Regions from separate parts of the Homo sapiens genome. Here region 2 is linked to region 1. Evidence: fine-mapped expression QTL. A gene starts in region 1. The other region holds a variant in brackets. All regions are shown on one strand. Distances are from middle to middle.

Region 1 (2,896 bases):
ACCAGTAGCAAACAAAACAGGATAAACCTAAGTCCCTGGCAAGCTGGATCTCCATCAGCAGGTCATCCAGATCCCCTTGTAAATGGCCTCCTGGGAAAATAAGTCCTAGGAGGCAGAGGCACAGATTTACCAGTCCCCATCAGAATCACAGGCTGCACCTGGGAAGGAAAAGCATGAAAAGGAGGAGAACTGATGTTACTTGAATCTCTTATCACTACACACATTAGAGTTGTCTGACTGCTGACCAACCTTAAGGTATGGTTTTCCCAAACCTATAGTCCCTGGACATCCCACCTGCATCCCTAGAGGGTAAGTTTCAAGTTCAGTGGTTCTGAAGCCTCTGCTTAACCAGAATCTGCAACAATAACTGGGGAGGAAGGGTAGACAAAGTCATAATTGCTGGTGTCACCAGGGCAGAGTCTAAGGCCCCAGCTTCCACTTCAGGAGGAAACAATTGAGGATGCCAGGTCACCAGCAAGAGAGTCCAGCTGCCTTAAGCCTCAGTACTGTCAACCAGTGCCCAGGAGTATAGAGGAGTTCAACAATGGCCTGCGGTCCCCTGGCTGGATGGGGTCTGGGAGTCCAGCAGGCTGCCGGGGCACCAGTTCACATTCCGTGCTTCTTGCGGATGACAGCCATGGCAAGCAGCCGATCCTTCTCACGCAGTTCTTCGCGCAGCTTGGCCTCAGTGAGACGCAGGTGGCGAATGCTGCCTTTCATCTCTTTCATCTTCACTTCCATCAGAGCCAGGATGTCCCGCTGCTCATTCAGCTTGCGCAGGAGCTCCTCCTCCGTGGTGCCTGACGACAAGGAGTACGAATGGTCGGAGCCAGTATCAGGGAAGCCCTCTTCCCCTACCACCACCAACTGGGGGCCCATAGGGCACTCGGCAGCCTCCAGCCCTGCGGTAGCAGCCTGTAACTCCGACGCGGCGGCCGCAGCGGCTGCGCCCTCTGCGGCTGCAAACTCCACTTGCACTGTGAGATCGATGGGCTTCACGTCTTCTCCAGTGGGAGTGATGGGCGCCGGCTGTACGGATCCCGGAGCCTGACTGCTGTCTACAGTGGCCTGAAGGGTGAGAAGCACGGCCGCGGAAGCAGATACCAGGTTCGGCTGCAGCTGGGCAGTCTGGGCAGTGGAGGCAGAGGGTGAGGACTGCTGCTGCTGCTGCTGCTGCTGCTGCTGTTGCTGCTGCTGCTGCTGTTGCTGCTGTTGCTGCTGCTGCTGCTGTTGCTGCTGCTGCCTGCGGCGGGCGGCCGCGGCCCCAGCGGGTCTGCGCGCTACTTTGCGCTCATTGACGCCGCGCAGCGGGAAGATGGTGGGGACGCGTACCGTGTAGGTCTTGCGGCCGCCCTGGAAGTGAACGCTGCAGAGACGGTGGCCTGTGGTGGGCTGGAAGGTGGAGAAGCACCCACTGACGCCGGCACGCGACACGTTCTTGAGCCAGAGGCGCCGCAACTCAGCGTCCTTTGGAAACGTGTAGAAGTGCAGCGCCTTGTCCCGGTGCGAGTTGTTGTAGCAGCCTGGCACGCAGCACGTAAAGCCAGGCATGGCTGCGCCGCGCGGCCCGGCCCGGCCCACCGGCCTCCTGCGCTCTTCGACGGCCCAGTGGCTACGCCGCCGCCCGCCCCTCGACGGGCGGCGCCGCGCGAGGCCTTGGGTGGTATCCCACCACTGCCGCTCGGCGCAGCCGGCCCGCCCGGCGCCCCGTGCCCAGAATACGCTTCCTGCCGGCCCGCGCCGCGCCGCCCGCCTGGCTGCCCGCCTGCGCTCGGGAGTGGGCCCCGGGGACGCCGCGAAGGACCGCCTGAGAAAGAGACTACGCCCCCCACAATGCCCCGCGCCAGAAGCGGCTCACTTCCGGGGCGGGTGTGTGCGGATTCCTGCCGCCTTCCAAGGCACTGCGATAGCCTCCGAAGAGCAGATTCTTTCCCCAGCCCGTCTTGTCCCCGGCGGGCGAGAGAGGCGTATTAGGTTGGAACGCTGTCGCCTGGACTGCTCCTCACGAGGACCCGAATCCTGATAGGGGCGTGGAGCGGGGCGGTGCGCGCCTCACCGGTGCGCAAGCGCGGTGGGTATATGCCCACGGAGACTACAAATCCCGTGATGCCTCGCGCTGAACTAGGCGCCTTCCCTCCGAAGCGCCGCCTAAGGGAAAGATCGAGTTACTGCGGACCAGGATTCGGGCGAGGTTGTGCTGTTTGCCAGAACCAGTTCCCCAGCCCCGAGCCCCTTTGAGTCGACGGCATTGCTGCAGCAGAGGGAGACGAAACCTGGGCCTCGGCGCCCCGAAGGGTCTCAGGAGCCCCTTTCTTTGCGTTGGGGACTCTCTCCTGATTCAGCTGCTGCCTGCGTTGACTAACTGATCTAAACAAAGTCTCCAGTAGACGCCTACTATGTGGCTGACACGGTGCCGGGAGTTTGCGGGAGTCAGACCGACTGGGCTCCTCTCTTGGAGCCTGACTACCTAGACGGATAAGCGTCTGTCTTTTGGATAATAGATCTGAATGCACGCGAATGGATGTCTACTCACAAATAGTAATCGCTCCAAAGGAATTAACAGGAGAGCAGAGAAATGGGGGGGAGGTGGTGGGGGCCAGGAATAAAAAAACGAACGAAAGCTTGGGTAGGGAGAAGTAGCCAATTCTTGTCCCAGGAACCAGTCTGTAAGGCCACATGGCAGAAAAGAGCTAGGCTCCGCCATTAAAGAGCCTGGAAAGGGGTGGCCCGGGTAGGGCCAAGCGTAGGAAAATACCAAACTGGGACATGTTAAGGATTTGGGGTTTTATTCTGCAGGCCACTGAGAGCTATTAAAGGATTTTATGGGAAAGGATTTGCATTGTAACAATACACCTCCCCCCACCTCAACTTATTTGAGGGAATCTTTTTTTTTTTT
Region 2 (2,896 bases), 37 kb before region 1:
TGGTGCTCTGTGAGCCGGGATCCCATGGCTGCATCCCTGCCATAGGCGAGAAGCACCTCAGGCTATGTGAGGCAGCCTAGAGACCACCCTCTCCCTCCCTAGGATTTCTCCCTACCCATCATCCTTCTTGCTTTTCCTCTTGAGCTTGGGTGAGGTTCGAGGGGATCCCTTGGTCTTCCAGTCCTTGGCAGGCAGCCGTGGAGCAGGAACTTTGGTGCCAAAGCCTCCTGAAGCAGAGGCAAGGCTGGCCACCTCATCATCATGGTCACTGTGGGAAGGGGAAGGAGGAGTAAGCCCCTGCCCACTTGCTGCCCATCCCCCCATGAGGGCAATGGTGTAGAGTGGCTCCCACCTTTGCTCAGCACTGGCATCCTGGCTGTCACGTTGCTGCAGCAGGTGATATGGTGGTCGGTGGAAGGCCAGGCTCTTGTGCTTTTCCTGAAGGCCATTCCTGGGGCTGGGAGGACAGGCCAACTTAGCCATGGATGAATCTATCTGAAGCCCCTCCTGCTAGCACACTTTTCCCCTCCCAAGCTCCTCACCTTTCTGCCAGGGTGCTGCAGGTCTCACGAGTAATGTCAGGTGCTGTGGGCCAAACCTGACTGTCAGGAGTCGAGGCCTCCTGGGTCAAGGCTGCCTCCAGGAGGGAGGGGGTATTATGCCGATCTCCATCCCCAGGGCCTCCATCAAGCCCGAGCTGGGGGCCGAGCTCGGGCCCTGGCCGGGGCCGTGGGGACAGCAGGTGCAGTGCCGAGGCGGCTGAAGCCATACTGTCTGGCTCAAGGCCCTCTGGTGCAGAGGAGCCAAAACCACGGGACAGGGCCTCAGATGCAATCTCAGGGATGTCCTGGGACAGGGCAGTGGAAGCTGAGGAGATGACATCAGGGGAACGAGTGCGGCTAGGGGAGGCTTGGGGTAGCCCCAGGGGCTCCACTTCCTGCAGCTCCAGGGACAGTGCAGAGGTGGCAGTAGGCACCTGAGGTGGGCCAAAGATGGGGGCTTAAGTGACAGGAAGTGAGGCAGAGATGGGGGGCACAGAGACGAGGCATTAGTATTAGCAGTAATGAGAGACAGGGCAGCAGGGAAGTGGGGATACAGGTCAAAAACGAGGCCACAGCCAAGAAGAGGAGGTGGGGACAGGGAGGCTGAGGAGACACCCACCAGGAAACACAGGAGGGTGAAATGACCTCAGGGAAACA[C/T]GGACCATGTCGGGTAGAGCAGGATCAGCAGCAGGGGGCTGGGAGGAGCCCACCACCCACCTTCCCTGCTGCTGCCCACCTGCTCCCCACACTTCACACACACACCCAGTCACACACCTGGCCCGGCCCCTTGGGAGTCAGTTTGTCAGCTGGGGCTGGGAGCAGGCCAGGCAGGAGGCCACGCGGGCTTGCCTGAAGGCTGCCACTGCTGCTCATTGTCAGGCTGCCATCCAGCTGCAGCTTGGGGCTCAAGGTCAGCTCCTCAGGTGGCCTGGTGGGGGAAGGCTGAGGTGTCAGCAGCCAGAGCTTGGCATCATCTGGTACCAGCCCCTGCCATCCTCCATCTCTGACCCTTGCCTCACCTGGTCAAGGAGGGGTCCACAGCTGAGGTGCTGCTCATGGCAGACACAGCTGTAAGGGAGCTGCTGCTACTGCTGCTGCTGCTGCTGCTACCGCTGCTGCTGCTGCTGGGAGAGGCAGTGATCTGGGGAGATGCAGGAAATAAGACCTGTGGCCTGTGGCTGAGGCATTCCCAGGTCCCCCTACCCTGGGAGAGTACCTGCTGCAAGGAGGCGCTAGGTGTCATGAAGGCGTCAGGTGTCATCAACTTGGGCTTGGTCTCACTGCTCAGACTGAGGAAGTCGGCAGGTGCAGGCAGCTCCACGATTCGTCGGAGGTCAGGCTGGGAGCCGTGAGCGGCTGACCCCAGGCCCTCAGAGCCCAGTTCGGGCCGAGACTCTCCAAATGCTGCAGGGCAAGTTGCCACTTGAGTTAGATCTCAGACCCTGGTCAGTCCAACTTACCCTACCTCCCTCTCACGCCCTACTCACTGAAGTCCTCGTGGGCAGTGTGGGTGGGCAGTGGGGCCACCACATCAGGGTTCAGCTGTGGCTGGAAGCGGATCTGCACATCTTGCAGTGCCCTGCAGGAAAAGAAGGGGGAGAATAAAGTGCTCCAAGGGCAAGGGTCAGTAGAGTGGAGACAGACACAGACAGGACACTGGCGGGCCTCCCCACTCACTCACTTAGTATGCACACAAAAGAGCTTGATGAGCACACCGGCCGCAGACTCCATGGCACCGGCTCCATGGGTACCATCTGAAAGGACAGTGTGGATGATGAAGCCCCTGGCCCTCTCTGTGCCTCCACAACCCCCTAGATATATGGACACATAGCTCTGACCCTGAGGCAGCTCACCAGCACCCAGGCTGTCATTTTCCTCTTCGGCAGGCAGCACCTCAGTGTGCCGTAGCCGGCAGCGACTCACAACCTGGATACCAAAGCTCAGCACAGGGTGGGTGAGCAGGAACTCCGAGATGGAGCTGAAGCAGGCGTGGCCCTCCTCCTGGTTTTGCAGCAGCTCCATCACATAGAGGACCTGCACAGGCAGAACGTTCCTAGCTGAGCTCAGAGGCTAAGGGCTGTGATGCGCCACCTGCCCCCCGGCCTTCCTCTATAATCCCAACTCTGCCCAGGGTACCCCATGGCAGCCTACCTTCCGTTGCACATCGCTGAGAATCAGGTATTCTGCTGAGAGGTCCAAGCAAACCTTGAGGCTAGGGGGCACACTCACTGAGCTGAAGATATCTGGGGAGAAGCTAGAGAGCCACAAAGCAGAGTGAATGAGCCTGAGAACTGAAGGAAGCTACATTCCCAACCCTGCCGCCCCTGCCCAGTCCCCCAGCCTTCCAGCCACTG

Evidence for each region. PIP is the estimated chance that this variant, and not a neighbour inherited with it, causes the effect.
Region 2: its variant is the best candidate, but not a certain one, in a credible set for the expression of THAP11 in blood mononuclear cells (TOPMed, PIP 0.60).

What each region holds. Positions count from the first base shown.
Region 1 is chr16:67,841,210-67,844,105 of GRCh38, reverse strand. It overlaps THAP11 (THAP domain containing 11), which reads right to left and starts at 1,786. Exons shown (of 1, transcript NM_020457.3): 1 at 1-1,786. The coding sequence starts at 1,551. The coding sequence ends at 607. The region is part of intron 1 of CENPT (centromere protein T); the gene reads left to right. RefSeq lists enhancers at 463-512, 953-1,112, 824-1,570, 2,023-2,072 and a silencer at 1,593-1,772.
Region 2 is chr16:67,878,637-67,881,532 of GRCh38, reverse strand. It overlaps EDC4 (enhancer of mRNA decapping 4), which reads right to left. Exons shown (of 29, transcript NM_014329.5): 11 at 2,694-2,796; 12 at 2,396-2,576; 13 at 2,224-2,296; 14 at 2,030-2,121; 15 at 1,759-1,946; 16 at 1,562-1,683; 17 at 1,317-1,470; 18 at 543-976; 19 at 353-457; 20 at 116-268; 21 at 1-36. Among named protein-coding and RNA genes, the nearest start is that of NRN1L, 4.8 kb to the left of the region's middle. The variant C/T (reference allele first, on the strand shown) is at 1,200.